Regions from separate parts of the Homo sapiens genome. Here region 1 is linked to region 2. A link means that fine-mapping ties the variant in region 2 to the expression of a gene that starts in the linked region. Tissue or cell type: whole blood. Region 2 holds a variant in brackets; the other region holds the start of a gene. All regions are shown on one strand. Distances are from middle to middle.

What was found. PIP is the estimated chance that this variant, and not a neighbour inherited with it, causes the effect.
Region 1: it holds the start of FAAP20, and the variant in region 2 is fine-mapped to the expression of FAAP20 in whole blood (TOPMed, PIP above 0.99).

The regions. Positions count from the first base shown.
Region 1 is chr1:2,190,301-2,198,394 of GRCh38, reverse strand. FAAP20 (FA core complex associated protein 20) reads left to right here and starts at 3,623. Exons shown (of 4, transcript NM_182533.4): 1 at 3,623-3,707; 2 at 4,262-4,397; 3 at 4,485-4,756. The coding sequence starts at 3,646. It overlaps LOC112268219 (a long non-coding RNA gene), which reads right to left. Exons shown (of 1, transcript NR_168005.1): 1 at 5,937-8,094. RefSeq lists an enhancer at 1,989-2,655 and silencers at 3,289-3,768, 3,779-3,868.
Region 2 is chr1:2,098,834-2,106,929 of GRCh38, reverse strand. The region is part of intron 4 of PRKCZ (protein kinase C zeta); the gene reads right to left. Among named protein-coding and RNA genes, the nearest start is that of PRKCZ, 52 kb to the right of the region's middle. The variant C/T (reference allele first, on the strand shown) is at 4,435.

The DNA of each region.
Region 1 (8,094 bases), 91 kb before region 2:
TGATTCATCATCCATAAATGTGTCCTTTTTTGCCACAGAGGGTAAGGGGCCTCCTAGCCCACCGGTCTGCAGGTGCGGGAGTAGGAGATGGGTGGCTCTGATGCCCCCACCCACTCGATCACCTTCTGCTCTGCCTGGGATGCAAACTCCCACAGCTGAAACGTTCTTTTGTAAACATGAATTTTGGCTTAGAAAAAACTCATTTCCACTGTGCACGTGTCAGTCCCAACCAGAAATTATTTTCCAATAAAGCAAAACTCCGTCACCACAGCAGCAGATGGCTCCGAAGAAGTGGAGCGTTTTCATCAGGTTCAACTTTGAAACCTCCACCATCACCATCACCAGCACCGCTGTGTCATGCTGATAACTTGAGGACAGGCAGGACAAGGTATGTTTGTTGGAGGTGAACATGCTTCCTTGTCTTGAGAGTCTTGAGTGGCCGGTCCCCTTCCAGGCCCTCGGCTGGCAGGCAGCTGTCGGGAAGCTGTCAGGCGGGAGGGGATTGGGGGTCAGGCTTCCTGACAAGTGGAGGCACCCGCCACGTGCCCAGAGCAGAGGTCACCCCAGTGCCTTTCTCTGTGGACTTATCTCTGGCTGTAGGTCACAGGGGCCTGCCCCACTGCCCCCTCCCCAGTGGTGACATGGGAGGAGGGGAGATTAATCCAGAGCAGCAGATAAACTGGAGGGGAAGAGCCCCCAGGAGGACAACTGTGACACGTTGTGCTGCCTCTGCGTCCCCAAAGCACCAGGCCCAGAGGCCCTGCCTTCTGCCCCATGGCACTGGCCTGGGGCCCTGGCTCCTCTTCCCTGGTGGCCAAGGGTAAATGAGGCCCACTGGGGTGGCTAAGACTCAAGGGGATGGGGGCCCCCCAGCTTCAGTGATGCGGGCTGGAGCCAGGCTCAGCCAGCCCTGAGGTCCCCTGCAGGCCCGTGCCTCCTACCCTTGGGGCACCCGCAGCGAGAGCTTCCCAAGCAGCCTGCGCCAGCCGGGCAGCGCAGGTGTCCCGGGTCTGGGTCACTTGAGACCCCGCCCTGCTTCTGCTCGGCTCTGCCCCTCTTGGGCCCAGTGGCCAGGGCACCTGCATGGGGGAGCCGGGAGGGGCTGGAAGGATGCTGAAGACCCCAGCAAAGCTCTAGTGTTTGGCTTTCCAGGGGTGGGGGCTGGGTCCTCCCGCCCAGAAAGGCCCCTGTTCTGGGGCAGCAGCCACACACAGGTGTCCCTCACATGGTCCTCCAGGACAGGGCAGGGGCCTGAGTTTCCCAGGCTCTGCCCAAGGGACCCAGGCAGGGAAGGAGATGGGTCCCAGGGGGCTCGGAGCCCATCCAGAGGCCGGCCGGTCCCATGGCAGGAGGGCACTGGACCATGTGGGGGCCATAGAGGAGGAGGAGGCAGGAGCCACCCCCGGGTCCAACAGCAGAACCCTGGGGTTGGGAGCCAGAGTGGGGAAGGGAGAGGAAGGAGCAAGAACACCCCCCACCACCCCCAGCACGGCACAGAGAGCTGAGCAAACACTTGTCACCAAGGGCTTTTCTCCTCTGTCTTTTTTTGTTTTTCGAGACAGAGTCTTGCTGTGATGCCCAAGCTGTTGTGCAGTGGTGCGATCTTGGCTCACCACAACCTATGCCTCCTAGGCTCAGGTGGTTTTCGTGCCTCAGCCACCCAAGTAGTTGGGATTAAAGGTGTGCACCACCATGCCCGGCTAATTTTTGTATTTTTAGTAGAGATGGGGTTTCTGCATGTTGGCCAGGCTGGTCTCAAACTCCTGGCCTCAAGTGATCCTCCCGACTTGGCCTCCCAAAGTGCTGGGATTGCAGGCTTGAGCCACCACACCTGGCCTATTTTTTTTTTTTTTTGAGTTGGGGTCTGGAGTGCAGTGGCACGATCTTGCCTCACTGCAGCCCCCACCTACCTGGGCTCAGGTGATCCTCCCACCTTAGCCACCCAAGTAGGTGGGACCACAGGCACATGCCACCATGCCCAGCTAATTTTTTATTTATAGAGACAAGGTCTTGCCATGTTGCCCAGGCTGGTCTCAAACTCCTGGGCTCAAGCAATCTGCCTGCCTGGACCTCCCCAAGTCCTAGAATTGCAGGCATGGGCTGCTGGGCCTGGCCTTTTCTCCTGTCTTGGGAGGCTGGGACCAGTCTTCCTGGAAGTACCCAAGGCCCTCCTGCAGACCATGGTGACATTTCCAGGAAAGACCCAGAAGCTCGGAGCTGAAGCCAGGGCAGCCAGGACTGTCGGGGAGCCCTGGACACTGGCTGTCTGAGAGCGCTTGGTCAGCTGGCACCTGCCATGTGGTGGACGTGGGGCTGCAGAGACCCCACGGCTGGGCTTCTCTCGCCTGAGAGCAGGCCCAGCCACAGGCTACCTCCCACAGGGCCCCCTGAGACCACACGGCCTGCAGCAGCTCCCCCAGGCCCCCTCCCCCTGCCCGGGCAGCACTCAGCGCTGCATCTCCATCTGCTCACTCAAGTCGAAGGGCCTGGGGGTTGGTGCCTCCATCTTGTTCTGCTGGGGGCCTCCAGCATCTAGAGCAGGAAGGTGTGCGGAAGAAAACCACTCATGCAGGGAGAGGGGGACCTCCCAGTCCAGGCCCTGCTGCTGACCCTTTCCCTGAACACCAACCTATGGCCTCCAGGCTGGGGCCCCTTGAAGGACGGTGGGCCACTCGGGTGGCCTGGGTTCAGGGCCGGGCTCCACAGCTGAGTTCTGGAGGGAGGGCACAGACGACTGGGGGCTGGGAGGGGCCAGGTGAGGGGTAGGAACAGCCAGGGAGCCCTGCAGGAGGGGTGCCCAGCATAGCCCCAAAGCTGCTGGGGCTGGGCAGGGCAGAAACTGCCAAGGAGTCCCAGAGCCCTGAGTGGCGTCTGGCGAGGGCCCCTGACCCTGATCTCTGTAGACCCCACTCCTTCCGTGAGGGTGGCAGCCACTCCAGGGCCCAGCAGGGCCAAGGGAGAGGCAAGTGGCCTGGGCCCATGGGGCACTGGGCACAGCCAAGTGTGGCACCAGGGTGCCTGGGCGGCTGCTGCCACCACGTGGCCGACTTTGAGGTCGCAGAGCCCGGGGTCCAGGCAGGAAAGCCCCTCAGCTGCCCCCAGGGCCCTGGCCCAGGCCCCTGAGGCCCAAGTGAGCCACCTGGACTTTGTCACTTCGCCTCTGGTTTCTTGGTTAAGGAGCTTGAGTTCCCCGCCTTTTGTAAAGAAACGGTGGTGGCGACGGCGGATTTCAAGCTTTATTTACTCCTGGAATGGTCCTGGGAGGAGAGGCGGCTCCGCAGAGCCGGAAACGGGGGCGGGAGCTGTTGGGTGCAGCCGGGAGGAGGCAGTGCCGGGGCGGGCCGGGCAGCCATCGGGGTAACGGAGGGGGCTCCGGCCCGGGGGCTGCCCGGACGGGAAAGGGGACACGGGCGGGGCTCCCCCACCTGGGCCCCCCACCCTCACGCCAGGCCCCCCTGTGCGGTGCAGGACGAAGGAACCCTGGCCTCAGTTTCCCTACAGGCTGGGATCAGGGCCCCTGGGGTTCCGACTGTCTCGGAGGGGGGCGGCCTCGCTGCAGAGGTCTGGAGGCGGGGCCGGGGCGGGGGCGGGGCCTGGAGGGGCGGGGGCGGGGCTTGCGCTCACTTCCGCCCGGCGCGGGCTTGGATGGAGGCGGCGCGGAGGCCGCGGCTGGGGTTGAGCCGCCGGAGGCCGCGCCCGGCGGGCGGGTGAGGCCGGGAGCCGGGCGGGGGCGCGGCCGGTTTTCCCGCTCCCACGTGCTTCCCGGCGCCCCCGCGGGCCTCCCGCTCTATTCTCCCCCTGGGGAGGGCTCCCTGCCCCCGGGCCCGGCCCCCACGCCCGTCGCCCCACCCCGCGCCGCCATTCAGCGCCCGCCTTGAGCCCCCACCCCACGCCGAGCTTCCCCCGCGCCGCCCCAGGCCCTCCCGCGCCTCTCCCATCATCGCGTCTCCCCTGAGCACCCCCCATCTAACCCTCTACCTTCCCCAGGCCCTCCGCAATCTCCCCAACCATCGCCTCATCCCGCTGAGGACCCCATATTTCCACCCACCCACCCCGCTCCCCCACCCCCAGTACCCCTCATCTCCGCACTGTCTGCCCCAGCAGCCCTTCCCCCAACCCTGCCGGCCACCTCCCGCACCATCGAATTTCCCTCTAGTACCCCCCATCTCCCCGCTCTCTCTGCCCCAGGCCCTCCCGGGTCTCCCCACCATAGCGTTTCCGCTACTGAGTACCCCCTGTCTGCCCTCTCTGTCTGCCCCAGGCCTTCTGGCGGCCGCCCCTGGTTTCTCCTGGGGGGTGATGAGCGGGAGCGGCTCTGGGCCGAGCTACTGCGCACGGTGAGCCCGGAGCTGATCCTGGATCACGAGGTGCCTTCACTGCCCGCCTTCCCAGGACAGGTGTGCCCACTGGGCCCATCTTAGCGATGAAGGGGTTTCCAGGGCGGGAGCCATCGCTGGGCAAGGCCCAACAACTCTGTGTTGCAGGAGCCCAGGTGCGGCCCGGAGCCCACTGAAGTCTTCACTGTCGGACCCAAGACCTTTTCCTGGACACCCTTTCCGCCGGACCTGTGGGGCCCGGGCCGTTCCTACCGGCTGCTTCACGGGGCAGGAGGGCACCTGGAATCCCCCGCCAGGTCCCTGCCCCAGCGCCCGGCACCTGATCCCTGCAGGGCCCCCAGGGTGGAGCAGCAGCCGTCTGTGGAGGGTGCCGCGGCCCTGCGCAGCTGCCCCATGTGCCAGAAGGAGTTCGCCCCCAGGTGAGTAGGCCACCCCTGCGCCCGGCCCGGTTATCCATCCGTGTTTGGAAACCACAGCCGTTCAGAAGGTCAAGAGGTGGCCGAGCTCAGCGCTGGCTTTTAAAGCCCTGTTTCACACTGGAAAGGTGGCCCAGTGCTGTGGCCTGGCATGTCCAGGTGGCTCTCTGTCACGGGTCTGGGGTCCACCTGCTTGCCGTGCTCTGTGGGCAGGGCAGGCTGGGGGCCCACAGAACAGCACAGAAGGAAGGCTGGGAGCACTGGCCCCGGGTCCACCTGGCCATCCTGGAATCTGGTGGCACCAGCGTCCCCAGGCCCAGAGCACAGGAACACCTTCCCGAGAGTGCGTCATGGGTTTTAAAAATGAAGATCGTCTTTTTTGTCTGGAGATGCTTTTTCTTATTTTTGAAACCCAACGTATATTTTTATGTATTTTTTAAGTAAAGGGGAATGGAACCCAGTTTTGCTAACAAGATAACCCAAACTGCCCAGTGCCTGGCCTTGTGTCTGGCGACCTCTGGGCCCTTGGCCTCCGGAGCAGGTCCTGGGGCTGGGGTGGTGTGAATGATGCTGGTTCGTAACTTTTGGTTGAGTTAATGGGCGGCAGGTTTCAGAGCTTATGGAGACCAGGTCCTTCAGTCATGCCTGATGCCCCTGGTCTTCCAGAAGCAAAAACAGCTCGGGAATGCGAAGGCACCGGAGTCCAAAGTTGGCAGCCAACAACAACAACAACAAAAGAAAAGGCCGGGCACGGTGGCTCACGCCTGTAATCCCAGCCCTTTGAGAGGCTGAGGCAGGTGGGTTGCTGGAGCCCAGGAGTTTGAGACCAGCCTGGGCAACATGGCAAGATCCCATCTTTACATGCCTGGGCGTGGTGGCGCGTGCCTGTGGTCCTAGCTACTCTGGAGGCTGAAGTGGGAGGATTCCCTTGAGCCAGGAATTGGAGGCTGTAGTGAAGTATGATTGCACCACTGCACTCCAGCCTGGGTGACAGAGTAAGACCCTGAATCACGGACAGAGGGTACTGTTGGGAGCCCTGGGGAGAAATCCATGCTCTTGGCTGAAGCTCTGAGATCCTTGTTGCTGTCAGGGTGCTGCCCCCCGCCCCCCGGGGAGGGGCTTTTGTCTTTGCATCGCCTGCTTTTCCAGATAGTCTAAAAAAAGACTTCTGAAGACAAGGACGTTCACGAGGAAAAACTTGCCATTTTGAGCTTTTTAAGCAGTTGCTGAAAGCTTGGCAGACTGCCTCAATTTTTCCTAAGTAGGCGTCAATGAAGTCAGGTCCAGGCCTTGGTGTGTCTGGAATGCTTCAAGCACATTCGAACACTTGATCGTAAGGGAGAGCCGGTACTTTGGAACCGGAACTCACCCGAGGCTGTGGCCACCGCATGGGCAGGCTAGCTGGGGGACAAGCCCCATATCTTTGGGAACAAGGGTTTGCACAGCCACCCTGGGATGCCCTGGGACTCCTGACCGCACAGGACCCCAGCAGGGAGGCCGCCTGGATTGGAGGGTCTGGTCTAACAGCCGGACTTGGTCTTGAACCGTCGCCCTGTCCCGCACAGGCGCCTGCTGAGCCTGGAGCCCTGGCAGAGGCGGGTCTGGGGAGTGGAGCTGCCAGGAGGCCTCCCATTTCTCACAGCCTTGGTGTTCTCCGGGTCACCCAGAGGACCGTCAAATGCTGGATTTGACAAACTATGTAGAATGTTCTTTGTGTCTTTAAGATCTTCTTGTGGTCCTATTTGGACATTTTGTGCATTTTCAGACACCTGCGGGTCACGTGGGTGGATGGGAAGCTGGGCACCTGGTGAGGGGTGAGGATGTTGAGAGCCAGAGCTGCGTTTTGTCTCTGTTGATGTGGCGAGGCCCTGGGTTGGTCACTGGGATTTTTTTTTTTTTTTGAGACGGTGTCTCGCTCTGTCGCCCAGGCTGGAGTGCAGTGGCATGATCTCGGCTCACTGCAACATCTGCCTCCCGGGTTCAAGCGATTCTCCTGCCTCAGTCTCCTGAGTAGCTGGGATTACAGGCGTCACCACACCTGGCTAATTTTTGTATTTTTAGTAGAGACAGGGTTTCACCATGTTGGTCAGGCTGGTCTTGAACTGATCTCAGGTGATCCGCCCGTCTCGGCCTCCCAAAGTGCTGGGATTACAGGCGTGAGCCACCGCGCCCGGCCGGTCGTTGGGATTTTAACAGCCCTGAGGCCCCTCACGCTGCCAGGTGCCAGCCCACCCTGCAGCCCTGCTCCCCTGCCCACACGCAGAAGCCACCAGAGGCTTCTGGACTGAGCCCCCACTGTCCTGCAGCCGGGCTGGCCTGTCCACACCACAGGGCGTGCTCAGCTACTGAGCAGAAGCGTCACGGACAGGGCAGATCAGGCCAGGACAAAGCTCTTCCGCCACAGGCGGGGGTCTGAAGGCATCTCAGAGGGCCCCCAAACAAGGGACGCTGCCTGGAAACCCCGGGACAAGATGACCTCGGTTCAGATCTTAGCACCTTCTGGCAACCTTAGAGAAAGCTTCTGGAGGGAGGGGCTGGTTCCCAGGATGGGCAGAAGCCGGAAAGTCTCAGACTGAGTGACCCTCGGGGGCTTCAGAAGGCACTGGGTGGGCTCTGCCAGAGTGAGAAGGCAGCTGATGGCTGCTGGAGCCAGCCCCGGGAGTGGGGGTCCAGCTATGGTCTGGAGAGGGGGACTTGAGGGTTGCAGTGGCCACACAGACGGGGCACAGGAGCCAAAGGAAGGGACACAGCAAAGCCCAAGGGTAAAACGGCGCGCCGTGGACTGGTCTGAGGGCAGAGGCTGTAGGGGAGCGAGGGGCGGTGTGGCTGACAGGTGGACACAGGGACACGTGTCCTGTGGACTTGGCCGCTCAGTGGGGGTGTGTCCCCCAGCAGTGGCGTGTGAGGGATGGTCACTCTGATGGGACACTGACCACTTGGCCTCCAGCAAGATCTAGGCCCAAGTCTAGGCTGAAGCCGCCCACTCAGCCCCGGGACATCGTCCCCGGCAGCTCTGCTGAGCACGCCAGCTCCGGCACTCTCCGGGAGTCATGGCCGGAAGTCAACTGTCCTGGCTTCCAGGGCCACACCTTGGCCAGGCCTGGTGATGGTCATTTCCAGCCGCTCCAGTTGGGCTGATGGGGCCACATGAGGCCGGGGATAGAAGGTGGCTGCGCTCAGACACCCCTCCCGGCCCCACTGGATGCCCAGGGCGCTGACCTGCAGGACTCGGATGGGTTTTCTCCTGCCACCCCTGCCTGGCCGGCCACCATCCCAGCGCCAGCGCCCTCCTGAGAGGTGCAGGGGCCGCGTGGGGCCTCCCAGAGTGGCAGGTTGGCAGC
Region 2 (8,096 bases):
TCCTCGCCCACCGGAGGGGCTTGCTGAGAGTCACCTGGCCTGGTGACACGTGTGGAGGGGCTTGCTGAAGAGTCGCCTGGCCTGGTGACACGTGTGGAGGTCCTCGCCCACCAGAGGGGCCTGCTGAAGAGTCACCTGGCCTGGTGACACGTGTGGAGGTCCTCGCCCACCAGAGGGGCTTGCTGAGAGTTACCTGGCCTGGTGACACGCATGGAGGTCCTCGCCCACCGGAGGGGCTTGCTGAGAGTTACCTGGCCTGGTGACACACGTGGAGGTCCTCGCCCACCAGAGGGGCTTGCTGAGAGTTACCTGGCCTGGTGACACGTGTGGAGGTCCTCGCCCACTGGAGGGGCTTGCTGAGAGTTACCTGGCCTGGTGACACGTGTGGAGGTCCTCGCCCACCAGAGGGGCTTGCTGAGAGTTACCTGGCCTGGTGACACGTGTGGAGGTCCTCGCCCACTGGAGGGGCTTGCTGAGAGTCGCCTGGCCTGGCGACACGTGTGGAGGTCCTCGCCCACTAGAGGGGCTTGCTGAGAGTCACAGGTATCGGCTGGAGTGCAGGTTGCCAGGAGCCAGGCAGGGTGTGCACGAGGCCTCACTATGTAATTCTCTCTACTTCTGTCAGTTTGGCATTTTTCCTAATAAAAACTTTTCAAGTACCAAGCCGCTCAGTTCTGCCTTTTGATGTTTGGATGCCTTGGCTGGAGCTCCACCTCCCTTCCCTGGCTCTGGGTCCGGCCCTGTCCTTCCCTGGCTCTAGGGGGCTTTGTGTCCACAAAATGTCAGGCTGCTCCATCAGCCACAGGGGGCTGGGGGGACACCCCATCGAAGTCCTGGGCGAGGCCCTCATCTCCCAACAATCCTGAGGACCTGTCTGGCATGGCCAGGAGACGTGGAAGGGCCACATGCAAATGAGGTGGCACCTCCCACACAGGGCACAAACGCAGGAGCCCCCTCATCCTCAGGGGGTGCCACTCGTGGTCCCAGCATGTGTGTGTGGGGGGGTGGGGCCTCATCCAGGCCTGGTGGGCAGCCCCTCCCACCTGAGACCTGAGAATAATTCTCATCCGACGATGACAACTATGTGTCTGAAAGTGACCTTCCCGGCATCACCTGGTCATCACCCACAGCAGCTCCCAGGGGCACGCAGCCACCCTGCTCCTCCTGACAGCTCTGTGACTACTTCACCCCAAATTCATTTTGCTTAGACATTTATTTGAAAAAAGACCTGGCCAGGAGTGGCAGCTCACGCCTGTAATCCCAGCACTTTGGGAGGCTGAGGTGGGTGGACCACTTGAGGTCAGGAGTTTGAGACCGGCCTGGCCAACATGGTGAAACCCCGTCTCTACTAAAAATACAAAAATTAGCTGCGCATGGTGGCAGGTGCCTGTAATCCCAGCTACTCGGGAGGCCGAGGCAAGAGAATCGCTTGAACCCGGGAGGCGAAGGTTGCAGTGAGCTGAGATCACGCCACTGCACTCCAGCCTGGGCAAAAGAGTGAGACTGTCTCAAAAAATAAATAAATAAGGCCTAACGTGACCCTTGGCCAAATGCCTAGTGCACTTACTTCTACTCCCGGATGGGCCCCGGGCACCCTCATGACCAAGCCCCAACCTCAGGGCCTTTCAAGAGTTGCGTCTACAAACACCCTGCAGGCCCTCACCCCCAGGCAGGGACAAACCAGCTGCTGGGGTCACCTGCTGGGCGGCAGTGCCGGTACACAGCGCAAGAGCTGTCTCCTGACGAGCAGGTTTGGAAGGAACAGCATGGCCGTGACGCAGTGACTTATGCCTTCAAAGCCACAGGGATGGGAAATTGCTTCATGGCACGACAGACGTGTGCTGTGATAAGGGGTTACTCGTTCTCAACAATGTTGGCTATGCAAGCGTCCTTGAGAAGTCTGAACTCACAGGGGAGCTGTCACAGATCAAGGTCAACAAGCCAGGGTGGCTGTCGGGGTGAGGCCGGCCGCGCCCTCCTGAATAAAAGGCCTGGGTGCTGTGTAATGAGGTGTGAAGAATAAAGGCTACTCACCCTGAAAACTGCTCTTCTCTCTCTGAAGACAGCACACACTCACCAGTCCCCGCTCACACCGCAACACCCGGCGAGGAAGCGCCCTCCAACTCTCCCTTTCGTGCTCGGCCCCGGGGGGCAGCAGTGAGCCCCGCAGGCCAGCCCGCTGCGTCCTGCCTGTCTGGCACCGAGCGATGTTCTGACCACCCCTCGCCAGGGCAGGCCCAGCCTCCCTCTCTCCTCCCAGTCCCCACCCACACTGGCTTCCCCTGGATGCTCCCTGCCTGGGCTCCACCCCAGGGCCTCATCGCGGCCATCCCCTGCCACCTGGGATTGTCCCCTCCCAGCCTCCCCTCTTAGGGCCCTTCCCACCATTCGCGCCACTGGATGCCTCTGGGGCTCCCCTGTCTGTCCCCTCACTCCTCTAGAACACATACCCCTCGCAGACCGATGCTGCTGTACTGGCCCCTGAACTGGACACAGAGGCCCTGAGGTTCAGGCCACCTTCTTCCCCTGCAGCTCTGGGGCAAGCACTGGCGTCTATCCAACCACCAGCCGTAACCTTCCCTCAGCCCGTGGGGCTAGGAGTCCAGGCTTCAGCCAAAGAAATCGCAACCAAGAGTTGGACCCCCTTTTTGATGTTCGACTGCTGGAGGTGTTTGAGACGACCCGCTCCCCTCCCGCCCACATCCCAGTGAGGTGATGAGGGCCCTGGGGAAAGTTCAAACCCTGCAAGCCTCAGCCCCTGCTCACCCCGCCTTGCCCCAGAGCCGCCACGGAAACCGAGACAGTCTCCTTACAGGCGCGCTCAAGACCTTTCTGGACCATCCTGGAAGACCCCCCTCCCCTGCTCTCCCCAGAAAACCTCATTATGTGGTGAGAAGCTCCCTCCCGTCTGCGTGCGGTGCTGTCATCTGTGTGGACACCTGAGCCAAATGTTGGGCAGGGGTCCATCCCATCTCTTCAGGGTGACCAGTGATTACAAGTGAACAGCTGGCGTCCAGGCCAGGAGGTGTTTAAACGGGGGCGCGTTGCCCTTCACCCCTCTCCTCCCACTGCCGCCTCAGGTGCAGCCCCCAGAGACCACAGCAGCTTGTGGAGAGGGGAGCGGCCAGCACTCACCCGCCGCCCCAGAGGCCCTTCCTTCCCATCTACTTTGCTATCCCTGTTTTCCCTTCTAGACAGTCCTCTCTCTCTTTCTCTGTTGCCCAGGCCAGAGTGCAGTGTTGCAATCATAGCCCTGCAGCCTCGACCTCCTGGGCTCAAGCGATCCTCCCTCGTAGCTAGGCCTACAGACACGCGCCACCGTGCCCAGCCTCACGCTTCTCTTCAAGGAAGCGGGGTTTGTGCTGATGAGGAAAAGTACATGACTGCATGACTGATGGAGCTTGGAGGGCTTCTTTGGGCTGGGGTGGGGGCAGCTTTCCCTGCGGAGCACCTGTGTCCCCCTCCCAGGCCTTCCCGAGGCACACGCGCCACTGGACGTGCCAGCTGCTGATGAACCATCCCCCACACTCTGTGTAACTGTGTCTTGAACTGATAAATAAATCAGTCTTGATAAATAAACCCTTACTACTGCGGCAGCTGTGTCGGCCGCTCTCCCGGGGAAGCCTTTCCCAGTCACTGGGGCTACGACTTGCTTTTTGGAGTCCTCTTAGAACAAGGCCGGGTGAGAACATCAGCTGCTGTTTGTCCACAGTGTAAGACCCACTGTGGAAACAGAGATATGAGTACAATTCTTGCCCCCCAAAAACCCCACAGTCTAGCCCGGCGTGGTGGCTCCCAGTACTTTGGGCGGGCGAAGTGGGAGAATCACTTGGGGCATTCCAGACCAGCCTGGGTAACAAATCAAGACCCCCAACTCTACTAAAAATAAAAAATTAGCCAAGCGTGGTGGTGCGCGCCTGAAGTCCCAGCTAGTTGGGAGGCTGAGGTGGGAGGCTTGCTTGAGCCCAGCTGCAGTGAGCCGTGATTGTACCACTGTACTCCAGCCTGGGCGACAGAGCAAGACCCTGTCTCTTGAGAGAGAGACAGACGGGGGGAGGGGCCAGAATATAAAAACAGTCAAGAGTCCAAAGGGTAAGGCCCCTCCAGCCCCTAGGTTTCTGGGCCCTGTGTCTCCTGGTTCTGAACCAATCCGTGACGCAGGAGAGTTGGGGGTTGGGGGAGGAGACTTGCATTTTTAGATCTCTTTCTACAAAGTTGAAATAAAGTGGAGAAAAAAATACACGAAGTTTCTAGAAATCTATCATTACTCATAACAAAGTAAAACAAACAAAAACGAGGGCCGGGCACGGTGGCTCACACCTGTAATCCTAGCACTTTGGGAGGCCAAGGCGGGCGGATCACGAGGTCAGGAGATCGAGACCATCCCGGCTAACACAGTGAAACCCCATCTCTACTAAAAATACAAAAAATTAG[C/T]GGGACGTGGTGGTGGGCGCCTGTACTCCCAGCTACTCGGGAGGCTGAGGCAGGAGAATGGTGTGAACTTGGGAGACGGGGCTTGCAGTGAGCCAAGATTGCACCACTGCACTCCAGCCTGGGCAGCACAGTGAGACTTCATCTCAAAAACAAAACAAAACAAAACAAACAAAAAAAAAAACGCAATAAAAAACGTGTACTAGGCTTCACAAAGCCCACACGAGACCCTGGAAATGAATGAATCAATAAATTACCCACCCATCCATCCTGGGCAGGACACAGGGCTGAACTGGTGTGGAGGTCGGGGCAGGGCCAGGCAGGCACCAGGGGCTGCCTACCCGCTCTGGCATGTGGCTGCTCCTGATCCTGGCCCCCAGTATGGAAGTCACCTTCTCCACCTGCTACTGGGTAGGAGCGGTGACCGGGGAAAGGAGACAGGGGATGGAAATTGGACAATTTTTCCAAAGCCCCACCTGCAATCCTTCCTCGTGAAAAGGCCCCAGGACCCCCAGAAGACACAGTCCTCTGTGACATTCCTGACTTGTCATTACCATGCCTGGCTCCTATCACATATCTGCTACATATCTGTTATAAATCCACCACGCCCGCTGTATCCATTATATACCCACCACGTATCTCTGCCGTGTATCCTTGCGTGTCTACTGTGCGTCTCGATCACGCATCCACTACGCCTCTGCCACACATCTTTGCTGTGGAGCACTGTGTCTACTCAGTACCTGCTGCTAAGTACCTGCTAAGTATCAGATGCGGTCCAGACCCAGGATGCACGGGCTCATGTCATCTTCGCAAACCCCCAGGGGAGGTGCTCTCCCACCCTCATTCTCCAGGAAGGGGAACTGAAGCCCAGGGCACTTGAAGACCTTTGCCCCGGGCCCTGCAGCCAGTGGCAGACACAGGCCGAACGCAGACTGGCTGATGGTCTCCGCAGCTGAGTATGAATGAATGAATGAATGAACGAAAGAAATGGAACAAACACAGAAACAAATGAGAGAACAAGTAAATCAGCAACAGGATGTCTCGCACCAGGGGTTGTCCCTGGAGTCTGAGGACAAAGTCAAGGGAAAGAAAGGAAGGAGGGCTGGGGGCCGGGGGACATCAGTGAGACCACCAGAGAAGGGGCGAGGAGGGGAGATGCCCGCTGGCCTCCCCCTACTGAGAGGACGTGGCCAGTGCATTTTGCTTGATTTCTTAAATCACATTTGAGATGCAAGACAGCTTTAGTAACCAAATACACAAAAGGAATGGTATCTCCTTGAAGTTAAACCTTTTAAAAAGTTTTAAAAAGGTATGGGAATAAAGTCTCCAGTTGTCAGAACTAAAATCAAGAGTTGGGAACTCACATGTCGTTTAGAGGGAAAACAAGATGGGGGACAGGGCCAGTCCCAGAGGAGACGCTCCCTTGGGATCCCTCTACAAAGTAGAATCATCTTAACGCCTTTTTTTTTTTTTTTTTTTAACAAAATAAATTGTCTTAGTCATTTTAGAAATGATAGAGAAAGTCAGACACAGGACGAAAGATGAACTGGCCAGGAGCCCCAGCCTGAAGGAGCGGGGACCACATCATATAGGGACAGCCTCCCTCACACCTCAGGGGGTGTGTTGGAAAGACTATGCCTCAATGATAGAATTAAAATGTCATCTTTCATCTCATGCAATTTCTAGCAAGACCAAAACTCCCTCTGAATAAGTCTCCTCCAACCCACGAGGCCTCTGCAGACCCCACCTGCTCAGGGCTGGGCCGGCCTCAAAAGTCCCACGGGAGCCACCACCTGGTGTGACCACTGCTGTTCACTGCACACCACCAGCCGTGCCTGTTCCTCCTGTGCCCTGTCCTGCACCTGCTCCCCGAGGCCCCGCTCGCACACCCCAGAAGGAACAGACGGGCTCCACTTTCTGTGCAAACTTGCAAGGTACCCATAAGTTCCTGTATCAGAGACATCATCGCCCATGGGGAGCTGGCCCCTGAGAGCCAGTGCCTGGAGGAGATCGTCCGGGGAGAGGACACAGCATTTAGATACAAAGGTAGGACCTTGGGAACAAAACCTGGACTCCAGAGATCAGGGAGGTGCCTGGAGGAAGGGGCAGCTGGGGCCTCTGGGCAGGGACAGACAGAGGTCTGGCTGGCAGCTTGTGCCATCCGCTTAGCCAGGCGGTGAAGACGCTGCCTCCAAGGAATTCTCGGTTACCACAGATGGTCACCCTGACGTGGGCGTTTTTCCACAAGGCAGATTTTGAAATAATTTTAGCAAAACAACCTCTACCACTGCAAAATAAAATTAAACCCAGGAAAGGCCAGCAGTATGCATTTGGGGGTGGTGGTGGGGTCGGAAGCAGGGCCGAGACTGAGCTGTCTCCCCACTGGCCCTCATAGGAATCCTAATGACAGTGTCAGCAAGACCTGGGGAATGGCTGGCATCTGACAGGGGCTGCAGGCTCTTACAGAAGATGAGAAATGGCTTCCGGTTTCAACAAGCTGGTTCAAAGCAGGGACCTCAGGTCACCCCTAACAGACGCAGCTCATCACTCTGAGGGTGCAGACCCTGGAGTCTGGTCTTTTCCCACAGAGGCATCAGTTTCTCACTTTCACCGATTTAAAAAACGTATTTCAAGGGTTTTCCATTCCTTGCGAGTGATCTGCTTTAGCACGACACGGACTAATGACCTGTTTAATTGGAACGGGAAATAGGTCACACCCAGGCCTCACTAACTCCTTAAAGAGTCATGAAATGTGCAACTAACATGGCCAGGGGCTCCCGAGGGGCCCTCACCCGACCCTCACCTCCACGCTGCCCCGTCCAGTGAGCTCCCCTCTGTCAATGCCTGGGCACCACCCACACCTACAGCCACAGCCTGTGCCGTGCCCCCGGCTGCCCACAGGGTCCTTGCTGCCCCCTCCCTCCGGGTACAGTCCTGTGAGCCTCATCTGGAAGTCACTCCTCCCCACGGCCTTCCCCACCCCGCCCCGCCCACTGCTTCTGAAGGGGCTCCTTCCTGGCAGCCGCCTGTGTCCATCACACCCTGGAACTGTCAATCATTGGTCTGCACAGTGAGCCCGCTTTGCTTTCACTGGTCCGCCCATTAGCAAGGGGCGGTTCCGGATTGTGCCTCTGGCAGCCGCCCAGCCTGGCATGGGATGAATGAATGAATGAATGACAGGGCTCCAGCTGGGAAAAGGTCTCAGACGTCACACTGAGGAGGATCCTAGCGCCAGCTGCATCGCACTGAAAATTCCCATTTATTCCCTAATTTCATATCCCAGCGACTTGTGAGAGGGGGTGTCCGTGGCCCTGGATGATGGTGATGAAGGAGTGCCGGGTCCCACACAGCTGTGTGGCTCCTTCTCCAACGAATATCCCACAGAAGTCGCAACACAGACAACAACGGAAGTCACAGCACAGACAACAACGGAAGTCACAGCACAGACAACGACGGAAGTCACAGCACAGACAACGGTGCATGCGATCAGGCCCAGAGCAGTAAAAACATCACTATTGGGCCCGGCGCGGTGGCTCACGCCTGTCATCCCAGCACTTTGGGAGGCTGAGGTGGGTGGATCACGAGGTCAGGAAATCAAGACCATCCTGGCTAACATGGTGAAACCCCATCTCCACTAAATATACAAAAAATTAGCCAACTGTGGT